Linked DNA regions of Homo sapiens: region 2 is linked to region 1. Evidence: fine-mapped expression QTL. A gene starts in region 1. The other region holds a variant in brackets. All regions are shown on one strand. Distances are from middle to middle. Region 1 holds the start of MGST1 (microsomal glutathione S-transferase 1). Region 2 overlaps LOC101928362 (a long non-coding RNA gene).

Evidence for each region. PIP is the estimated chance that this variant, and not a neighbour inherited with it, causes the effect.
Region 2: its variant is the best candidate, but not a certain one, in a credible set for the expression of MGST1 in prefrontal cortex (CommonMind, PIP 0.52).

The regions. Positions count from the first base shown.
Region 1 is chr12:16,345,890-16,349,889 of GRCh38, forward strand. It overlaps MGST1 (microsomal glutathione S-transferase 1), which reads left to right and starts at 1,756. Exons shown (of 4, transcript NM_020300.5): 1 at 1,756-1,821. RefSeq lists enhancers at 846-1,775, 2,706-3,635.
Region 2 is chr12:16,173,423-16,177,950 of GRCh38, forward strand. All of the region lies in intron 1 of LOC101928362 (a long non-coding RNA gene), which reads left to right. Among named protein-coding and RNA genes, the nearest start is that of SLC15A5, 100 kb to the right of the region's middle. The variant A/T (reference allele first, on the strand shown) is at 2,788.

The DNA of each region.
Region 1 (4,000 bases):
TGTTCGTGATTTAGTGATAGTAGGAACTCAGTATTTATTCATTGATCAATTAATAGTTTGAACACATTCTATATTTAGAGCATTAGATGAGTCAAGTGCTACTTTCTTTTTTAAAAAAATGTTAGAACCAGCTGGACGCAGTGGCTCACGCCTGTAATCCCAACACTTTGGGAGGCTGAGGCAGGTGGATCACGAGGTCAGGAGATCAAGACCATCCTGGCTAACACAGAGAAACCCCGTCTCTACTAAAAATACAAAAAATTAGCCAGGCGTGATGGCAGGTGCCTGTGATCCCAGCTACTTGGGATGCTGAGGCAGGATAACGGTGTGAACTCGGGAGGCGGAGCTTGCAGTGAGCTGAGATCGCGCCACTGCACTCCAGCCTGGGCTACACAGGCAGACTCCGTCTCAAAAAAAAAAAAAAAAAAATGTTAGAACCATTCAACTAGCATTCTGTAGACCAAATTATCTAAACAGTAGCTCTCCTCTTCCTTTTTCTGCCATGTTATCCATAAGATTTGGCCTGTATCACCTTATAATAAATGAAGAGAGTCTTAAATTCTTATAATACCAAACTCCTTTGGAGAGAATTCAGAATAGATTTATGTCATCTCAAATTCTATCCTATTCCAGTTAATGTTACAGACAGATTCTAGTATACTTTACAAAGATAGGTGAATAAGTAGAGTTTTGAAAAGATACAGACATAAAAGTGAAGAACAGATGCCTTCTGATGCTAGATTTTCCAAAACTCCTACTGTTATGCTTATATAGAAATCATTCTCAGACCTTCCTTGGATTAATTTCTGTTCCTAGAGCAAACTGGTAGTTATTTCTTTCTTTAATAGAACATGAACTTGTCCATCACATCCTAGAAAGTTAGTCCTAGGGATATCCTTTAAAGCCTAAAGGAGTAAATTAAGAGCAAAAAAAGGAAGTAGACCTTGCAACAGGTGGTGAGTGTCTGAGATATAGCACTAGGAGAGAAATAATATAGATTGAAAACAGAAATCCTTAAACATTTCTCATATAAACCCATGAAAGATAGATCCATAAATATTGTGGGGACTATGGGGACTAGGAAGCTTGGAAGTATCCCTAATCTAGATAGTGATGGTAGGCTAAATATCTACGGCTTCCGTAAACGTTCCTCTAAACCTCCCTGTAAAAAACACACTAAGCTGATTGTGTAATGAGCTGATCCAGTACAATTGCCTCCAATTTCATTCTGGACCCTGAACAGGAGGGGACATCGTGACAAAGCAAATTGTCTGGTATCATGAATTTGGAACACCGTAAGTGATCTTTACTGAGGGTTACATTCTGTCATTGTCAGCCTTTTAAGGAGGCCTTGCCACCAGCGCAGGGGAGGTGAAGTCTAAGGGAAGGTAATATTGTCAATGCCTGCTAATTAGTTCTACCCTGGAGATTTTAACTTTCTGCGAAGTTTTTAAAAACAACTTCCAAAACTCTGCTGATCCTGAAATGTTCGAGAATTCAGAGTTCCTAGACAATGGCTACTGTCCCCCTTCCCACTGATTAGGGGAGTTGGCATTTCAGGAACCAGAGTTTCTAAGGGCGCCAAATAGAAGGGCTCAAAGGGAATCAGCAGGCGATGGTTACTGTGGGCGGGTAAATCAGGTGATTTAGAGGAGGGGTTTGGCGAGGTTGGGGTCGGGCTTTAAACGTGGGAGGGCTAATTAACAGGAGATTAACTGGAGAGGGGCGGTGCCTGCGTCCGGCCCGCGCGGCCACAGTCCCTGCATTGCGCGCGACCCGGCGGCGGGACAGGCTTGCTGCTTCCTCCTCCTCGGCCTCACCGTGCGTACTGGGAGGGGAGAAGGGGACCGCATGCAAAGGGTGGCAGGCAGGGAGGGCCAGGGTGGGTGGCAGATGGAAGACTTGGGGGGGTCTCTGCCAGCTGGAAGTGCTTGGCTCCACTTAGCAGCTAAACTTAGCTTTTCAATCGATCGCTTTTGAAAGGGAATTGTATTTCTGTCCCCGTGCGGGTAAGTTTTCCCATTTCTCAAACTCCAGGAATGAAACGAGAGAGTCTTTTCATGCTTGAGTGATGATTTCCAAACTTAGCCTTTTCAAGTCAAAGTAACCTCCTGTTTGAAAGGGTCCCTTGAACTCTGGGGAAGGAGGAAAAGGCACGTGTAGTAATGGAGGAAATGCCTGTAGTTTGAACGACTGCTGTTCTCCCCAAGAGTGCAAAAGCCTGCGATGTCTCAGGTTTCATGGGCATAGTGGCCTTTATGCCTATTGTAAGGCAGGATTTGCTCTTCTGAGTTCACTTTGATAGGAGAAACATCAGCAAGTTTTAAAATAATACTAAATAATACTACTGCTAATAATGCTAGCTATCGAAACAAGAGGATGTGGGTTAGATGATAATATTTTTGTGTGATATTATAGCCAGTGACAAGAGAGCTAAGGGTGAGCCCCTTGGGACGGTTCTCACCTGTGCCCCACTTCCCCAGTCTGGAGGAGGAAGCCATGTGGAAGGAGAAAAGGAGAAGGGAACTCTCTTTTTCGGGAATTAAGGTGTCATATATTGCTCTAGCTGGCTTGGGACAGAGGAGAGAGGAGTGCATGTAAATCTTCTAGTCTCTCTGCTTCTCTTGAAATGTGGCAGTCTGAGCTCCACGTTTATATTCCCCTATTTCTTCTCCCTAATTTCTTACCCAGTGAGTGCTGAGTGGGTGCCCGCAAGCATTGCTGTATAGCACCCAGGCCTCCAGTGAGCAATCCTTAAAGCCCAGTTTTCCTGGGGTCCCAGCCTGCTGTGAGTCCCAGCCTACACCTACCTTTTGCATATGCTTTTCTTGGCCTTAGGATAGTACTGGACTTTGTTGTCCTCTGCTGTTTCCAAAATAAGAGGGCTATGTGTGCGATTATCTTTGGTAATTAAAAAAAAAAAAAAAAAAAAGGCAAATCAGTCCAAATTTGGATATTACCCTCTCTGGCAGACGAGTAAAATTTTTCTACCGCTTTGTTTTAGAGTGGTGTCTATGAATCCCTGAGATTGGAAAAGGAGGTCAGGTCAGCACAGAGAAAGGCCTTACCCCACCACTCTCCCGAGAGGCACCAGCATTTCACCTGCAGCCTCTGGGCTCTGAACCCCACTTTGCATGAGACCACATAGTGGGCTGAGTCTGCAGCCACCACGATGCCTTCAGGAAATGCTAGAATTCATCTAGAGTTCCAGATTAACGTATCCGCAACATGGCCACCGAATTATCTTTTTTCTTTATCTCATGTGTAGTGTTTGTTAGTTTTAGAAGGTACAAAATTGCAGAGTCATGGCCCTGGGGATGCGTGCCCAGATTATTCATGTGTTTCACAATATTGATGCAGAAAGGCTGGCCACCTCATCCTGAGAAGAGAACTTTGCTCATTTTGGCCAAAAGCCTGTAAAGGGAAAGGGCGTTCCTCAACTGAGAAGTGAAGATTCTTCTCTGCTAGATAGTACGGGGGTTTGGGGGGAGGGGTAGAAAACAGGAATGAGATTTGACAAGGAAAGGCCTCCAGAAGACCAGAGCTGTTGAGAATTCTTAGCCTTGATGGTGGGTAGCCCAGAGGTAAACACTTGAGAAAACTAAGTTGCAGTCTTGGTCTCTCCACTGTGAATTTGGGTCATATTACTCACTACTTTTCTGGGCCTTAATTTCCTTACATACTAAAGGTAGAAAAAAATATTATTTGCTCTACCTCAGGATTTTTCGGGTCAAGCGAGATAAAATATGCAAAAGCTTTTTGAAAATTCTAAAATCCTCAGTGCCTAGAACAGCGCCAAAGTCGGAAGTTTTTTATTTACCAAACACACAGCATTTAACAGGTCCCAGAGCTTCTTTTTTTTTTTTTTTTTTTGAGACGGGGTCTCGCACTGTCACCCAGGCTGGAGTGCAGTGGCACGATCTCAGCTCACTGCAAACTCCGCTTCCCGGGTTCACGCCATTCTCCTGCCTCAGCCTCCCGAGTAGCTGGGACTACAGGC
Region 2 (4,528 bases), 170 kb before region 1:
TTTGCATATAGTGACCCACGAGTGCAGACCTCCAGCCAGCCCCTTACAGCCCCCAGTGTGCAGAGGTTCAGTGACTCAAAGTGAGTACGAGGTATGTTGATGGCTGAGACAGTGGTGTGCTGACAACCTGGAAAGCCATGCTTTCCCTTAGAATCAGAACTTGCTTCAAATGCAGAAAGAAGGCCATGACATTTTAAGAAAAACAAATGGCCAAAGAGCCCTGTTAGAACCTTTCTTTTATATCACTTCGCCGTATTACTCAATCATTTACACTGGAAATAATAATGACACAGATGGAAAGAGAAAGAAAGAAAAACCCAGAGTTGCTTATCCTTTTAAGTCTTTCTTCACTCATTGATGAATGTAGAATAGAGGGTGTTGGCAGAATGTGTATCAAGAAGTGAAATAACATCACAGTTGAGTTAGTTTTTGAAGCTTTTCCACTATTCTGGTAAAAATGATACATATATGTACAGATGCATGTATGAGCTATGAAATATAAATTCAGCAATTTTAGTGTTCTACACATGACTTAAGAGCTCTTGTATTTACATTTAAAACTGATTTTGCACAATATACGGATAAATGGTAAAACTCATGCTGATAACTAAAAATTTTAGTTTTTCTTTGTGTAGAAACACTTAAGTAGCAAAACCAAAATCATCCCTAAACTCCAGAAAACCCGCACAACAAAACCACCATTACAAGTAAGAGTGAGACCACAGGAGGAAAAAAGAGCCTTATATTTCAGTATCGTGAGTCACACTTTTCTCCTACTTTTTGAAGTTGGAGAACCACATTTTCATTTTTCACTGGATTCTGCAAATTTTACAGCCAGCTCTGCAAGTGACTTGTATTGATTTGCTAGGGCTGCCATAAAAAAATACCACAGAATAGGTGACTTAAACAACAGAAATTTACTTTTTCACACTTCTGGAGGCTTAGAAGTCCAAGGTTTAAAGTTCTGGCAGGGTTGGTTTCCTCCGAGGCCTCTGTCATTGGTTTGCAGGTGGTTACCTTCTTTCTACCTCTTACCATGGTCGTTTCTCTGCGCATGCGTGCCTCTGATGTCTCTCTGGGTGTCCAAGTTTCCTCTTCTTTAAGCACCCCAGTCAGTTGGCATTGGGGCCCCTCCATATAACCTCATTTAACTTTAATTATCTCCTTAAAGACCTGATCTCCAAATATAATCACATACTTGTGAATGAGGGAGGATTAGGGCTTCAGCCTATAAATTTGAGAGGGGGGCACAATTCAGCCCGAATGGTACTTTTCAATGGCATGAACCAATAAATTCCATTTTTCTTTACACCAGGTTAGATTGTATTTTTTTTAATCCCTTAGAACTTAAAAGAGCCCAATTGCCACAGCTTCATAGTGTAACCCCTCGCATCTACTCCTCAGTATTCTGCTACCCGTGGACAGGATATTTTTAACCCTCTTAGGCAACTCAGAAATGAGGAAAAGAGATAGCTAAAGTTGTCAGGAAATGGAACAAGATGCTTGTGAAAATGTATATTCACTCTTTATTCATGATATAATAATAATAAAATTATTAGTGCCAGTGAAGAGATCAGCCCCTTTATTTTCACAGGTTATAGAATTAGGACATGGAGGAGTAAAATAAAATCTGCATAGCTCGGGAAACTAATATCAGAACCCATAGCCCCTGATGGCTATGTCAGGATTCTTTTCATTCTACTTCATGGTACTTACCTGAATTTTTCATAGTACAGAGATGAGGGATATACTTTTAATCTCTGAGTTGGTTCACCTGTTTGATAAAAACTCCTCTGAAGTTGTTTTTGTGTATTTTTTAAACAAAAGGCCATTTAAATAAAATATGCACCAATCTACCAAGATCCTCTGTTAAGTCCAAACTAGCAAAATAAGTGGTGTAGAAGAGTGTTTTTTCATTTAAACAATTTTAAAAAATAGAAGTGATGCAAATAAATGCATGTCTCTTTCTGGAAAAATCACATATGCTACAATCTAAACTGAGATCTTTGTAGATGTGACTTCAATTATAGTATGTATGAGGTAATCAATAATTATAGAAGGCAGCTTCTCAAAGGCAACAACGGACCTCAGAACCAGGATTGGGATTTGAAATTTAGAATACCTTTTTTCCATCCCCTAATGTTAATTCCACATTCAGGGCATAAACTTTTAGTCTGAAGAACTAACAGGGAGCAGAAATAACACTATTTTACTTGCGCAAATTTTTAAAGAGGAATCACGTACAGGGGGATGGATATTTTTTATTTATTGAATGTTCTCAGCATTTCTCATTGGTGTCTCTAAGCAGCAGAACTAAGATCAATAGGAAGGCATAAAGTTGCAAGATGGGAATGAAAAATGAGATTAAGAGTAATGCTTGTAAAAGTGCAAAGATACCTGCTTAAGAGACAGCAGGGGCTGCGTGACCCAGGCCCTCTTAAGCTGTCCTCTCTTCTTGCATGACAGTCCCAATGTTGCAGGCCCTTGGAAAAGGCTCCTTTCAAAGTGTGGAGAAATAGAAGGCAAAGTGCAGATAGAGACAGTGACAGAGAGCAGGAGACTTCAAGGGAAATAACCATGCAGTCGCAGATGAGATGTTTGCTGCTGCCCTAAATACACATGACTGTGATGTGGCTGTTTTTGAGTTGTTCCTTATTTTCCCACAAATGTACTAACAAATCCAAATGAGTGTTTTCATTCAGAATAGTCATCTTAACAGTACATGTATTGCAACACAGTAGCCATTGCTTAAATACCTTTGGGATCGCTTTTATTCTTTTAATATAT[A/T]CAGAGCTAATAAACATTTGTCAGTTGAGTTTTGGGAACTGCAAGAAGCCTACAAGTGCCAAGTTTGGTGAATAAAGCTATTATTTGAGTCCCTCCCTCCCTCCCTCCCTCCCTTCCTTCCTTCCTTCCTTCCTTCTTTCCTTCTGTCCACAATTGGTAATCAAAAATGGAGACTCAATATAAACTACTAGAATTTACCTTCTTGTATGGTTTATAAAATGATGCGGAAGGTGTAAGAAAGAGTGAAAAATGACAACATCATAAGTAGAGGCTCCCAAGGTAACTATTCTGAAGGTTCCAATATTCAGGAACATTTGGTTATGCTTGTAAAATACACACACACACACACACACACACACACACACACACAAAAGCACACATACCAGCTTGTGTACAGATTGCAGTGTTTTCAAGTATCTTTGTTGTGTAAAAAGATACCTGTGTAGCTTTATTTTATGTAGCTCTACTAAATACACATTCAGAGACTCTATTATTCCACAGTTATAAATACTACCAGCCAAGTGAATTCTGAGTTTGCTCTGTTTCTGATCTAAGCTCCATCAAGTCATTAATTTCTCCTTTTTCCTGGGGCTGATCTAAGCTGTGAGGTTTTCAGTCTCAATCAAGTGAAGAGGAGAGTTAGTATCTATCCTTGGTCATTACCTGTCCTGCACTGATCTCTCCTGAGATACACAATTCTTCCATTTGGTCCTCCACGCTGCTCCCTGCTGCCTTGCCCCTGTGTCATGACTACAAGCCCATTTGGGGTCACTTGTTCTCTCTCTTGCTCTCACTCCCACTCTCCTCTCTCTTTTAGAGCTAACTTCTGTTTCACAAAAATGTGGGAAAGAGGGAAGGATCAGTGTATCTCCCACAGCTTTTAGAGGTGCTGGAGACTTAGGGAACTCTTGGATCCTCTGCCCCAGACATTTCTTGAAGCCATTTGGCTCTATTGCTGCCTTGCTTTAGTGGTGTAGAAAAAACGACAGCAACCCTATAAAGGTATGCCTGGCACACAACAGGATCTCTCTGAATATTTATTGATTGATTGGCTGGCTGACTGAATGAATGCAAATGCTATTTCCCAGAGTTCCATAGGGTATATGTTTTCTCTTCTATTATGTTCTCCGAATAACGTAAGGATTCTATAGTCTTCTCTACTCTCATTGAAACTCATCCTGGATGAGGTGGAGAGAAGAGGATAAGGCCTCTTCACAGGGACCCTGCAAGAATAATTCTAGATCTCTGAGGAGTTTCTGTAGTCATGTAAGGAGGCTGCCAAGTGTCCCACCTCATTTGGTTAAATTATGCTCATCTTTTAGGTGTCAGATGAGACCACCTTAACTTTTCTTTAGACTGTGTGCTCCATGAGGAGTCTTTTCTGTTCTGTCCTCATCACCATTTTATTAGTAGGTATTGTGCTTGGCATATCAGGTTGTCAATATTTTTGTTTGTTTGTTTTTTGAGATGACCTCACCTGTTGCCCAGGCTAGAATGCAGTGGTGTGATCATAGCTCACTGCAGCCTTGAACTCCTGGGCTCAAGCAACCCTCCTGCTTCAGCCTCCTGAGTAGCTAGCAATACAGGCACACCAGTGTGTCTGGCTAATTTTTTATTTTTATTTTTGTACAGATAGGATCTTACTGTGCTGTCCAGGCTGGTCTCAAACTCCTGGCCTTAAGCAGTTCTCCTGCTTTAGCCTCCCATAGTGCTGGGATTATAGGTATGAGCCACCACACTC